Linked DNA regions of Homo sapiens. The protein of the gene in region 1 interacts with the protein of each later gene in a pairwise test. Each region holds a gene or a part of one and is shown on either strand. Other genes may lie near its edges.

Evidence for each region.
Region 2: the proteins of SUMF1 (region 1) and SGSH interact in binary tests that used the Homo sapiens proteins (3 or more experiments, as listed by UniProt).

What each region holds. Positions count from the first base shown.
Region 1 is NC_000003.12:4,360,595-4,366,328, reverse strand, and holds the end of SUMF1 (formylglycine-generating enzyme isoform 1 precursor), read left to right. Parts: intron 1-4,074; coding exon 4,075-4,185; 3' UTR 4,186-5,183; downstream 5,184-5,734.
Region 2 is NC_000017.11:80,217,334-80,224,703, reverse strand, and holds the start of SGSH (N-sulphoglucosamine sulphohydrolase isoform 1 precursor), read left to right. Parts: upstream 1-4,370; 5' UTR 4,371-4,390; coding exon 4,391-4,478; intron 4,479-7,370. Other genes in the region: SLC26A11 (sodium-independent sulfate anion transporter), read right to left, coding at 1,367-1,524, 1,857-2,049, 2,910-3,143. UniProt on the Homo sapiens protein: Catalyzes a step in lysosomal heparan sulfate degradation.

The DNA.
Region 1 (5,734 bases):
ATGGAACCAAGTTGGAAACACTCTGCAGGTTATTATCCAGGAGAACTTCCCCAATCTAACAAGGCAGGCCAACATTCAGATTCAGGAAATACAGAGAACACCACAAAGATACTCCTCGAGAAGAGCAACTCCAAGACACATAATTATCAGATTCACCAAAGTTGAAATGAAGGAAAAAATGCTAAGGGCAGCCAGAGAGAAAGGTCGGGTTACCCACGAAGGGAAGCCCATCAGACTAACAGCGGATCTCTCGGCAGAAACTCTACAAGCCAGAAGAGAGTGGGGGCCAATATTCAACATTCTTAAAGAAAAGAATTTTCAACCCAGAATTTCATATCCAGCCAAACTAAGCTTCATAAGTGAAGGAGAAATAAGATACTTTACAGACAAGCAAATGCTGAGAGATTTTGTTGCTACCAGGCCTGCCCTAAAAGAGCTCCTGAAGGAAACACTAAATATGGAAAGGAACAACCGGTACCAGCCACTGCAAAATCATGCCAAATTGTAAAGACCATCGAGACTAGGAAGAAACTGCATCAACTAACGAGCAAAATCACCAGCTAACATCATAATGACAGGATCAAATTCACACATAACAATATTAACTTTAAATGTAAATGGACTAAATGCTCCAATTAAAAGACACAGACTGGCAAATTGGATAAAGAGTCAAGACCCATCAGTGTGCTGTATTCAGGAAACCCATCTCACGTGCAGAGACACACATAGGCTCAAAATAAAAGGATGGAGGAAGATCTACCAAGCAAACGGAAAACAAAAAAAGGCAGGGGTTGCAATCCTAGTCTCTGATAAAACAGACTTTAAACCAACAAAGATCAAAAGAGACAAAGAAGGCCATTACATAATGATAAAGGGATCAATTCAACAACAAGAGCTAACTATCCTAAATATATATGCACCCAATACAGAAGCACCCAGATTCATAAAGCAAATCCTGAGTGACCTACAAAGAGACTTAGACTCCCACACAATAATAATGGGAGACTTTAACACCCCACTGTCAACATTAGACAGATCAACGAGACAGAAAGTTAACAAGGATATCCAGGAATTGAACTCAGCTCTGCACCAAGCAGACCTAATAGACATCTACAGAACTCTCCACCCCAAATCAACAGAATATACATTTTTTTCAGCACCACACCACACCTATTCCAAAATTGACCACATAGTTGGAAGTAAAGCTCTCCTCAGCAAATGTAAAAGAACAGAAATTATAACAAACTGTCTCTCAGACCACAGTGCAATCAAACTAGAACTCAGGATTAAGAAACTCACTCAAAACCGCTCAACTACATGGAAACTGAACAAAAATGACTACTGGGTACATAATGAAATGAAGGCAGAAATAAAGATGTTCTTTGAAACCAACAAGAACAAAGACACAACATACCAGAATCTCTGGGACACATTCAAAGCAGTGTGTAGAGGGAAATTTATAGCACTAAATGCCCACAAGAGAAAGCAGGAAAGATCCAAAATTGATACCCTAACATCACAATTAAAAGAACCAGAAAAGCAAGAGCAAACACATTCAAAAGCTAGCAGAAGGCAAGAAATAACTAAAATCAGAGCAGAACTGAAGGAAATAGAGACACAAAAAACCCTTCAAAAAATTAATGAATCCAGGAGCTGGTTTTTTGAAAGGATCAACAAAATTGATAGACCGCTAGCAAGACTAATAAAGAAGAAAAGAGAGAAGAATCAAATAGACCCAATAAAAAATGATAAAGGGGATATCACCACCGATCCCACAGAAATACAAACTACCATCAGAGAATACTACAAACACCTCTACACAAATAAACTAGAAAATCTAGAAGAAATGGATAAATTCCTCGACACATACACTCTCCCAAGACTAAACCAGGAAGAAGTTGAATCTCTGAATAGACCAATAACAGGCTCTGAAATTGTGGCAATAATCAATAGCTTACCAACCAAAAAGAGTCCAGGACCAGATGGATTCACAGCCGAATTCTACCACAGGTACAAGGAGGAACTGGTACCATTCCTTCTGAAACTATTCCAATCAATAGAAAAAGAGGGAATCCTCCCTAACTCATTTGATGAGGCCAGCATCATCCTGATACCAAAGCCGGGCAGAGACTCAACCAAGAAAGAGAATTTTAGACCAATATCCTTGATGAACATTGATGCAAAAATCCTCAATAAAATACTGGCAAACCGAATCCAGCAGCACATCAAAAAGCTTATCCACCATGATCAAGTGGGCTTCATCCCTGGGATGCAAGTCTGGTTCAATATACGCAAATGAATAAATGTAATCCAGCATATAAACAGAACCAAAGACAAAAACCACATGATTATCTCAATAGATGCAGAAAAGGCCTTTGACACAATTCAACAACCCTTCATGCTAAAAACTCTCAATAAATTAGGTATTGATGGGATGTATCTCAAAATAATAAGAGCTATCTATGACAGACCCACAGCCAATATCACACTGAATGGGCAAAAACTGGAAGCATTCCCTTTGAAAACTGGCACAAGACAGGGATGCCCTCTCTCACCACTCCTATTCAACATAGTGTTGGAAGTTCTGGCCAGGGCGATTAGGCAGGAGAAGGAAATAAAGGGTATTCAATTAGGAAAAGAGGAAGTCAAATTGTCCCTGTTTGCAGATGACATGATTGTATATCTAGAAAACCCCATTGTGTCAGCCCAAAGTCTCCTTAAGCTGATAAGCAACTTCAGCAACGTCTCAGGATACGAAATCAATGTACAAAAATCACAAGCAATCTTATACACCAATAACAGACAAACAGAGAGCCAAATCATGAGTGAACTCCCATTCACAATTACTTCAAAGAGAATAAAATACCTAGGAATCCACCTTACAAGGGACGTGAAGGACCTCTTCAAGGAGAACTACAAACCACTGCTCAATGAAATAAAAGAGGATACAAAGAAATGGAAGAGCAATGTATTTTTAAAAAGCAATGTTGTCCCACAGCCTTTCCTATGTTTGATGTTCCTAGACTTGTTGTTTAATTTTTTGCCGATCTACTGGCATTAAATGATATCATAAATATGATTTAGATAATAAATAATATCATAAATATTATTTAGGTATTAAATGGTGTCTTAGTGTTGTTCTTAGTATTTTTTCAGTGGCCATCTATCACTTATTACTTGGTTTAATTTCAAAAATTAATATATATTCTTATTGTATTGGAATACTGAATAGGTTTCATATAGGAAACATGAAACTCAGATTGCTTGAGGGATAACTACTGTGCACATTGTGGTGCATTCGGAATCTTCCAGTCTTTTCTTCTTGGCACATGTAGTTATCTACACTGTGGTCATACCACATATACACCTTTATATTCTGCCTTTTTCATTTTAACTGTTTTTTTTTCTTTTTTTGGACACAAGATCTTGCTCTGTCACCCAGGCTTTAGTACAGTGGCTCAGTGATGGTGTACTGCAGCCTCAAACACCCAGGCTCAAGAGATCTTCCCACTTCAACCTCTAGAGTAGCTGTGACTACAAGTGCACACCACCATGCTCAGCTAATTTTTTGTAGAGATGGGATCTTGCTGTGTTGCCCAGGCTGGCCTCGAGCTCCTGGCCTCAAACAGTTCTCCCATTTCAGCCTCCCAAAATGTTGGGATTACAGGTGTGAGCCAGTGCGCCTGGCCTCATTTAACATTTTATCATGAAAACTTCCTGTGTCATTAAATACTATGTAAAGACATGACTTTCAATGGCTGCTTACTTTTCTATTATATGGATGTGCCTAAACTTAGGCAATCATTGGTTGTTACATTTTTCTTTTTTGCTGTTATATCTAATGCTGAACATCTTTGTACTATATCCGTGTTACATTTATAAGGTGAAGGACGTTGGAAAATATGTGGTTAGTTCTTGAATGTGCTGCCCTTTTTAAAGCATACATGTTAAGTATCCATACAGGCAGGGTTGTGGGGAAGCACTGTCTACAGCCGGTGCAATATGCATCTGATGGGTTAGAGCCTTCAGCTGAGAGTCCCAGTAGCACTTACCTTGCTCTTTCTCTCTACACAGTCTTATTGTTACAGGTATCGCTGTGCTGCTCGGAGCCAGAACACACCTGATAGCTCTGCTTCGAATCTGGGATTCCGCTGTGCAGCCGACCGCCTGCCCACTATGGACTGACAACCAAGGAAAGTCTTCCCCAGTCCAAGGAGCAGTCGTGTCTGACCTACATTGGGCTTTTCTCAGAACTTTGAACGATCCCATGCAAAGAATTCCCACCCTGAGGTGGGTTACATACCTGCCCAATGGCCAAAGGAACCGCCTTGTGAGACCAAATTGCTGACCTGGGTCAGTGCATGTGCTTTATGGTGTGGTGCATCTTTGGAGATCATCACCATATTTTACTTTTGAGAGTCTTTAAAGAGGAAGGGGAGTGGAGGGAACCCTGAGCTAGGCTTCAGGAGGCCCGCGTCCTACGCAGGCTCTGCCACAGGGGTTAGACCCCAGGTCCGACGCTTGACCTTCCTGGGCCTCAAGTGCCCTCCCCTATCAAATGAAGGGATGGACAGCATGACCTCTGGGTGTCTCTCCAACTCACCAGTTCTAAAAAGGGTATCAGATTCTATTGTGACTTCATAGTGAGAATTTATTATAGATTATTTTTTAGCTATTTTTTCCATGTGTGAACCTTGAGTGATACTAATCATGTAAAGTAAGAGTTCTCTTATGTATTATTTTCGGAAGAGGGGTGTGGTGACTCCTTTATATTCGTACTGCACTTTGTTTTTCCAAGGAAATCAGTGTCTTTTACGTTGTTATGATGAATCCCACATGGGGCCGGTGATGGTATGCTGAAGTTCAGCCGTTGAACACATAGGAATGTCTGTGGGGTGACTCTACTGTGCTTTATCTTTTAACATTAAGTGCCTTTGGTTCAGAGGGGCAGTCATAAGCTCTGTTTCCCCCTCTCCCCAAAGCCTTCAGCGAACGTGAAATGTGCGCTAAACGGGGAAACCTGTTTAATTCTAGATATAGGGAAAAAGGAACGAGGACCTTGAATGAGCTATATTCAGGGTATCCGGTATTTTGTAATAGGGAATAGGAAACCTTGTTGGCTGTGGAATATCCGATGCTTTGAATCATGCACTGTGTTGAATAAACGTATCTGCTAAATCAGGCTTCACCGTCATCAGCTTCTTTTCTCTTTCTCTTCTTTATGTTTTCTTTTAAAGAGAGGACTTTGTGATATGCGTGTTTTATTTGCTAGAAAACGTTCATGTTTGTTAGCTAATGGATAACTTTGATATGTGGGTAATTTGTGGGAATTTTTGTTCCAAAAAGCAAGGCTATTCCACCAGTAACCCTATCATGACCTTGCTGCTTGTTGCCACAGTAGATAATGCCAAGTCAAAGGCACTGCCTCACTTGTGGTCTTGTAAAACCCAGCATTTGCTTCCCATGCCGGGAAAGCACCTTGTTTTAGAACAATAGCTTTCAACCTAAGGTCCCTGTTATCAAGTTCCCATCCTGATTCCTCAGTCCTGAGAACCCCTAAGCCATTTCTTGCATGCCATTTGAAAGAAATGTTTAAATCAAATAATATTCAAAAGTGTCTAACCAACACTTGAATGCTACTTTTGTGCTTAGCCTCTTAACATGTTAAAACAATTCCCTTGAAAAGCAGTCATGTAGGCCAGGCCCAGTGGCTCACACCTGTAACCCCAGCACT
Region 2 (7,370 bases), on another chromosome or scaffold:
TTAAAGAACCAACCATGCCCTGAAACAGCATTTGCCAAGCTAACCCTGAGAGATGCGTGTAGATAACGTACAAATCACGCTCACCCACACCTAAGTTGGTCCCTCCTCTCTCAAATGGAAATAATGATAAATCTACCTCCCGGGGTGTGTTGAGAATTACACATGGAGAGTGTCCTGCCCAGTGCCTCGCACGTAGCAAGAGTGCAAAAAGTGTCTACTTTATTCTCACACTCACACACTCACACTCTCACACTCACACTCTCACACCCACACCCACTCTCACTCACTCACACTCACTCTCACACTCATACACTCACACACGCGCGCGCGCACTCACACTCCCTCACACCCACACCCACTCTCACACTCTCACTCATACACACTCACACTCTCTCACACACACACGCACACTCACTCACACACGCACTCACTCACACACGCACACACTCACACACTCCCTCAAACCCACTCACACTCTCACACACTCACTCATTCACACACTCACACACACTCATACACACTCTCACACACACTCTCCTGTCCTTGGTCTTCTCATGGTACCTCCATCAGGGAAGACTGTCTCAGGCCAGCCTGGAACAGGGCCTGGCTTGGGGAAGATGACCTGCAGTGACACAGGGTCAGGAGGCAGCATGTGACCCTAGTCTGCCATGAGGGCCGCATGGTCCCATCTGTGGAATTGGGCTCACTTCACTCCACACACACCCCACTGAGCACCCCCCTACTGCACCAGCCCAATGCTGGGCGGCCATGGCTGGGAGAAGGACAGTTCCTACCCTCGAGGAACTTACAACCCAGCAAAAACAGAATAAATTACACCCTCAGCTGATGACTGATTTTAGTACTTATTATAAATGTTTTAAAAGAAAATATAAAAGGCATGGCATTTAAAAAATATTAAACAGAAACCAGAAAAAAAAGCACAAAACAAAACCATCTAACTAAATTGGCATGGGGAAATAATTTGCCTATAGAAATTCTAGCAGCATGCTCATGACTGGTGGGGCCTGCTGGGTGTGCCCAGTGCAGGGAGAACAGAGCCACGTCACAGAGCCAGCCAAGCACACTGGCACGGAAACTCGGGCAAGAGCAGGGGGATGGAATTACCGGCCCCCAAGTTACCCGCTGTGAAATCCAACCATCACGTGACATCCCTCCCAGGAGGGTCATTTTATTAACAGGGGACCCATGAGAGCACCGCGTGCTTCTTGACCCATGGAAGACAATCTGAAACAGCAAGACGTCCACTGGCCACAGGGATCAGGACTGGCCTCAGTCCTGCTCCCGCCATCCCTGTGCCAACGAGCAGTGGCCAAAGAGCAGTGCCCTGGGTGGGCGCCGTGCCTACCTTGATCTGTCCAAAGCCGATGGTGACGGCAGCAGCAGAGGTGAAGCCTTTAATGACGGGGTAGGAAATGAAGTCCAGCAGGAACCCTGGCCAGCCAAGAGGGGACATCGAGCTGGTCCCGGCTCCACCCAGTCCCAGAGGATGAGGGGAGATGTGAGCTGGGGAAGGTGGCAATGGGTGGGATTGGGGAGCAGATACCGCAGCTAAGGACTGGGGGTAACACACCCTGTTTGGCTGTTTTTGGAGAGCAGAAAAGGGAGACTGGGGTCTGAGGCCACAGGCACTTCTCCAAGTGTCCTGGCCTCTAAGCAGAAAAGAGTAGACTAAGAGCCAAGTGCCCCACCCCCTCCACCACCCACCCACCTACACACACACACATACATACCCACACCCCAACACGCACACACACGCACACGGGGATAGACTTGAAATGCAAACAAGCAAATGCTGAGGTCGAGGGCATCCCCTTGGCAAGAAGGTAGAGCCTCACCCAAACGCAGGACCCCCATGGCCAGCTGGATGCAGCCGGACAGGAAGGCCAGCAGCACAGCGTAGGCGGGCTCATGGAAGGTGTAGAAGGAGACCAGGAGGGACATAATGGCGGTGGGGCCCAGAGTCACATCCCGGGAGGTGCCCAGGAAGAAATACACGAAGCAGCCCATGAAGGCAGAGTAGAGGCCATACTGTGGGGAGAGAGGGTGGTGAGCACTCAGGAGGCCGAGGCCCATCCACCAGCTCCCTAGTGTGCGTGTCCAAGCTCGGGATGTGTGGGTGTCAGCTGTGTCCAGGCCCAGGTTAAAGGTGCACCGCCCTGCCCTGTGGGTGGACCTGCAGTGATCAGGAGGCCACTTTTTTAGCAGCACTCAACTGGGGCCTCAGGGTGCAGACAGCCAGGCAGAGGGGTCGGTGCAGGCCCGTGTGCTGTGTCCAAGTCTGAGGAAGCATTCTTTTTTTTTTTTTTTGAGATGGAGTCTCGCTCTGTCGCCCAGGCTGGAGGGCAGTGGCACAGTCTCGGCTCACTGCAAGCTCCGCCTCCCGGGTTCACGCCATTCTCCTGCCTCAGCCTCCCAGGTAGCTGGGACTACAGGCACCCGCCACCACACCTGGCTAATTTTTTGTATTTTTAGTAGAGACGGGGTTTCACCCTGTTAGCCAGGATGGTCTCCATCTCCTGACCTTGCGATCCGCCTGCCTCGGCCTCCCAAAGTGCTGGGATTACAGGCTTGAGCCACCGCACCCAGCCTAATTTTTGTATTTTTAGTGGAGACGGGGTTTCACCATTTTGGTCGGGCTGGTCTTGAACTCCTGAGGCCTCCATGAGTCATCTCGCTGGCCCCTCCATAACCAGCTCAGTGTCTGTGTGTGCCAAACAGGCATAGGAGCCTGGGTCGGCCCAGAGACAATCTGCGTCACACACTGTAAACCAAAGGTTCCTTGGGGCCCAGGGGCTGGAAACCTGGAATCGCTGATGGTGTCTGGGATTGATACTGTGTATTCTGCACTGTTTCTGAGATATGGCTGGCAGCAGGGTCAGACGCCTCACCTGGGGCGGGAGTCCAGCCACTTCAGCATAGGCCAGCGCCTGGGGAATGGCAGTGAGGCCAACTGAGAGGCCGGCGACGAAATCCATCTTCAGCCACTGCAGGGAGTAGCTGGGCAGCCACGCCAGGATGGGCAGCCTCCTCTGCAGGGCCGCAGGGGAGCAGCAGCAGGCGCTCGGGGCCATCCCGGGGCCAGAGGACCTGGCCTGACCCAGCGCCGTCACCGAAGAAGGCATCTCTACGGTGGGGCTGGGGGGTGCAGGTGACACAGACCAGCAGTCAGAGCGTGGCCTTTGAAGAACCCGGCAACACTGGTCAGGGTCGGCGGGTGTCAGGAGAGGTCACTATGGGTCTCCCCTCCCCAGGGGGGCGAACGGCTCTAAGAGGAAGCCAACAATGTGTGCAAGATGGGGACTGGGCCAAGACTGGAAGGCCCACCCCGTCCCTCATCACCCTCTCTCCCTGAATCCCCCCCGTGCAAATCCTGGGTGCCTTCTGTCCCTCCATCCTCAACTCTCCCAGATAAGAAACTGATAAGCGATTCCTCATTGAGAAGTCTGAAGACTAATTAGGCTCAACACTTCTGGCCCCTGGAGAACCGACTTCCTTTGCCTTTTTTTCCGTCTCCCCAGGGAATTTAACGGGGAGCAGCGCAGAGAGAAGCTGGGCCCGCGGGCGCACCGTAGGCTGGCGGGGGGTGCGGGTGGCAGCCAGGAGATCCAGCGGGGCTCCGAGGTTTTCCAACTGCGCACCAAGGCGGGCTCCACCCGCTACGGTGGACTGCGGCGCTCGAGGGAGAGTGGGGGGGTCCTCCGCTCCTGAGGCCACGCCTCGCTCAGCCCCCACCTGTGGCTTTCACAGCCCTGGAGTTCTAGTTGCTTCTGGGAGGACATCAGAGGCGCCCGGTTAATTCAGGTGCGCAGCATCTTCCAGGGCCCCGGCGCCCGCGCGCAGAGCCGCCACCCTCACCCCCAGCCCCCCACGCCCCCGGCCGCTCCGCTCCGGGCAAAATCCACTCCCCGGCCCCCGGCCCCGCCCACAAGGCCGCTGGCTCCGGATCCTGGGGTCTCCGGAGGAGACCCTGCGCCACCTGACCGTCCGCGGTCCCTTGGCCCCGAGCAAGGCCGAGGGCCGCGGGGACCCGGGTAGGGACGCGGCGGGGGAGTGGTCCCCACGGGAGGCCCCCGCACTTCAGGACTCCGCGCTGGCCCCCGCGTCGGCTGCCCCCGGCGACCCCGGCCACTGTCCGCTCCCCCTGCCCCTGGTCCCCGCTCGCCGCCCTCGCGGGCCACGGACTCACCCACTCGGCGATGCAGCTTGGGGTCTCCTGGCGTCGCCGCAGCTGGGTCCGCAGGAATCGCCGGGGACAGGCCGGGGCGGGGTCTGGCGCGCACGTGACCGGGGTCGGGGCAGGGGGCGGGGCCGAGCGGGAGACCAGAGAGCCGGAGCCGGATCCCGATCCCGAGTCCGAGCCGCCGCCGCCATGAGCTGCCCCGTGCCCGCCTGCTGCGCGCTGCTGCTAGTCCTGGGGCTCTGCCGGGCGCGTCCCCGGAACGCACTGCTGCTCCTCGGTGAGTGCCGGCGCCGCCCCCCCACGCCCACCTGCGGTGGCCCGGGGAAGTGGCCACTGGCCTCCTCCCCACCCGTGGTCAATGCTGACCCTAGTGTGCCCTGCCCTTGTATCCCCCGCTGCCATTCCCTCTCGTCCTCCTCTCTGTGCCGCCCCCAGACTCTTCACGGGTGTCTCCCCAGAGAGGGCAGCAAAGGCTGGAGGAGTGAGCCCCAGCATCCAGCACCCCTACACTTACCTCGTGCCGCCTGTCCCACCCTCCTCTGACCCTGCCCAGCCAGGGCTCAGGGGTCCACGGATCTCAAATCCCTCTTGGGAGGGGATCCCAGAGGAGGGGCTGGTGCTCCGGTCCCCAGAGACTGCAGACAGGGTGCCCTCCTGGCTCTCATTTCCGACCCCAGAGCCTGTGTCTCAGCTGTCTTTTCCCTTATCCCAAGGGCACAGCCCTCCACCACCCACCCACCACCGTCTCCCCCAACCCCAGTCCCTCTCAGAAACCCCAGGTTCCTCCAGAGCAAGCACCGTGCTGCTCACAAGACTTCCGGTTTAGGTAATCAAGGCTCTGGCTCATGACAAGTGACAAGGCCAAACCCAAGGCCTGCGATTCTTTCCCCTTCTGAGGTCTGGCGCCCTGCCAGTTGCCCTCTTTCTGATTAATTTTGTGGTCTCTGGGCGGGGGTTCGGCTCACTGTAACATAAACAGCTCTCCTGCCAACTCCTCGCCTCCCAGAAACACAGCAGAGAATCTGCATGGACCCTCACCTGCGGATCAGAATTCCTACAGGAGGCTGTCAGAGTCCAGGCTATGCGGCCCCTGGGCTAGGGCCTTTCTTAGCACGGACTGCCATGGATCGGCTTAAACAGAAATGTATTTCTCACAGTTCTGTGGGCTGAAAATCCAAGGTCAGGGTGCCAGCTTGGTTGGGTTCCAGTGAGGGTCCACTTTCGGCTTACAGGTGGTCACCCTCTCACTGTTTCCTCACATGACAAGCGGATGGGGGTGGTCTCACTTCCTTTTCCTTTCTTTTTCCTTTCTTTCCTTTTTTTTTTTTTTTTTTTTTTTTTGTGAGACAGGGTCTCACTCTGTCACCCAGGCTGGAGCACAGTAGCACAATCACAGCTCACTGCAGCCTCAATCTCCCAGGCTCAAGCGATCCTCCTGCCTCAGCCTCCCAAGTAGCTGGGACCTCAAGTGCACATCACCATGCCTGGCTAATTTTTGTATTTTTTGTAGAGACAAGGTCTCACTGTGTTGCCCAGACTGGTCTCGAACTCCTGGGCTCAAGCAATCTTCCTGCCTTGGCCTCCCGGGTGCTGGGCTTACGGGCATGAAACACTGCACCCGGCCCTCTCTTTCTTTTCCTTTAAGTCCACAGTCCTGTCAGATCAGGATCTCATCCTTATGATTCATTTACCCTTAATTAAGGACCCTGTCTCCAGATACAGTGATGTTGACGTTAGGGCTTCAGCATATGAATTCTGGGAGGACACAGTTCAGACCATAGCAGGCCCACAGCCAAGTGCCGAGACACTCTGGGTTTGGAGAAGGGCAGCTTTCTTCCTGGCCTGCGGGTACGGAGCACAGCCCATCCCGCTCTCCCTCCAGGTTTACGTGGCTGCCATGTGCTCACACCTGTGGGTACTGTGGGGTGGAGGATGGAAGCCCAACTGGAAGGTGCCCAGCCTCCTCTGTCCATCCATGGACCACATTGCCTCTGAGGGAGCTGGGGAAAGTGTTGGTCTGGGGGTTCCCACCAGCCTCTCCTGTGGTGCCCCCAGTGTCCTCTACTCCAGAGCAGGGGGAAGAAGCTTGGTGTGGTTGTAGGAGTTCAGCGGCCTGTCCCTGTTTCCTGCTGCCCAGTGTGTGGCCCTGGGCACTGCACCTCACCTTTCTGGGCCTCAGCTGCTTTGTGTAGGATGAAAGGGTTGAAATAGACAACCTGCAAGGTCACTAGGCCTTTGAGATGGCATCAGTGAGAAGCAGCGGTGGGACGCACACACATAGAGCTTTAGACGCGCCCTGGGCGAGGCTCTCCTGCCCTCTGCCCCATGCGGTTTCCGCTGAGCCCAGAATTGCCCAGCAGTTCTGTGGCCATGCGCTCAGCCGCTGTCTGCCTAAATGCCTAGCCGGCTAACACGCCCACCCAGGTAGCATGCCTGCTGGGGTATCATCAAGCTTGTTGGGTCATCATGCCTGCATGAGTATCTTGCCCACTTGGGTACCATGCCTGCCTGCTAACATGCCTATGCAGGTACCAGGCTTGCCTGGGTACCATGCCCATCTGCTTATACCCACCAGCTATCAGTCCAGCCTGTGTACCATGCCCACCTGCCAACATACCCACCGGGTATCATGCCTGCTTAGGGTATCATCAAGCTTATTGTGGTATGATGCCTGCTTATCATGCCCACTTGGATACCATGCCTGCCTGCTAACATACCAACCACGCATCATCCCTGCTGGATACCAGTCTACCTGCTAACATACCCACTGGTATCAGGCCTGCCTGGGTACCATGCCTACCTGCTTATACCCACCATCTATCAGTCCAGCCTCCATACCATGCTCACCTGCCAACATACCCACCATCTATCAATCAGTCCAGCCTCCATACCATGCTCACCTGCCAACATACCCACTGGGTATCAGGCCTGCCTGGGCACCCTGCCTGCTTGCTGATATACCCACCAGGTATTGTGCCTACTAGGTACCATGCCTTCTTGCTAACATACCCAGTGGGTATGGGGTCTTCTGGATACATGCCTGCCTGCTAACATACCCACCAAGTATGAGACCTGCTAACATGCCCTCTGATACCATGCTTGCCTGATGTACCCACTCGGGTGTCATGCCTCCTAGGTAATGGAGTGCTCTGTCACGATAGCATTTCGC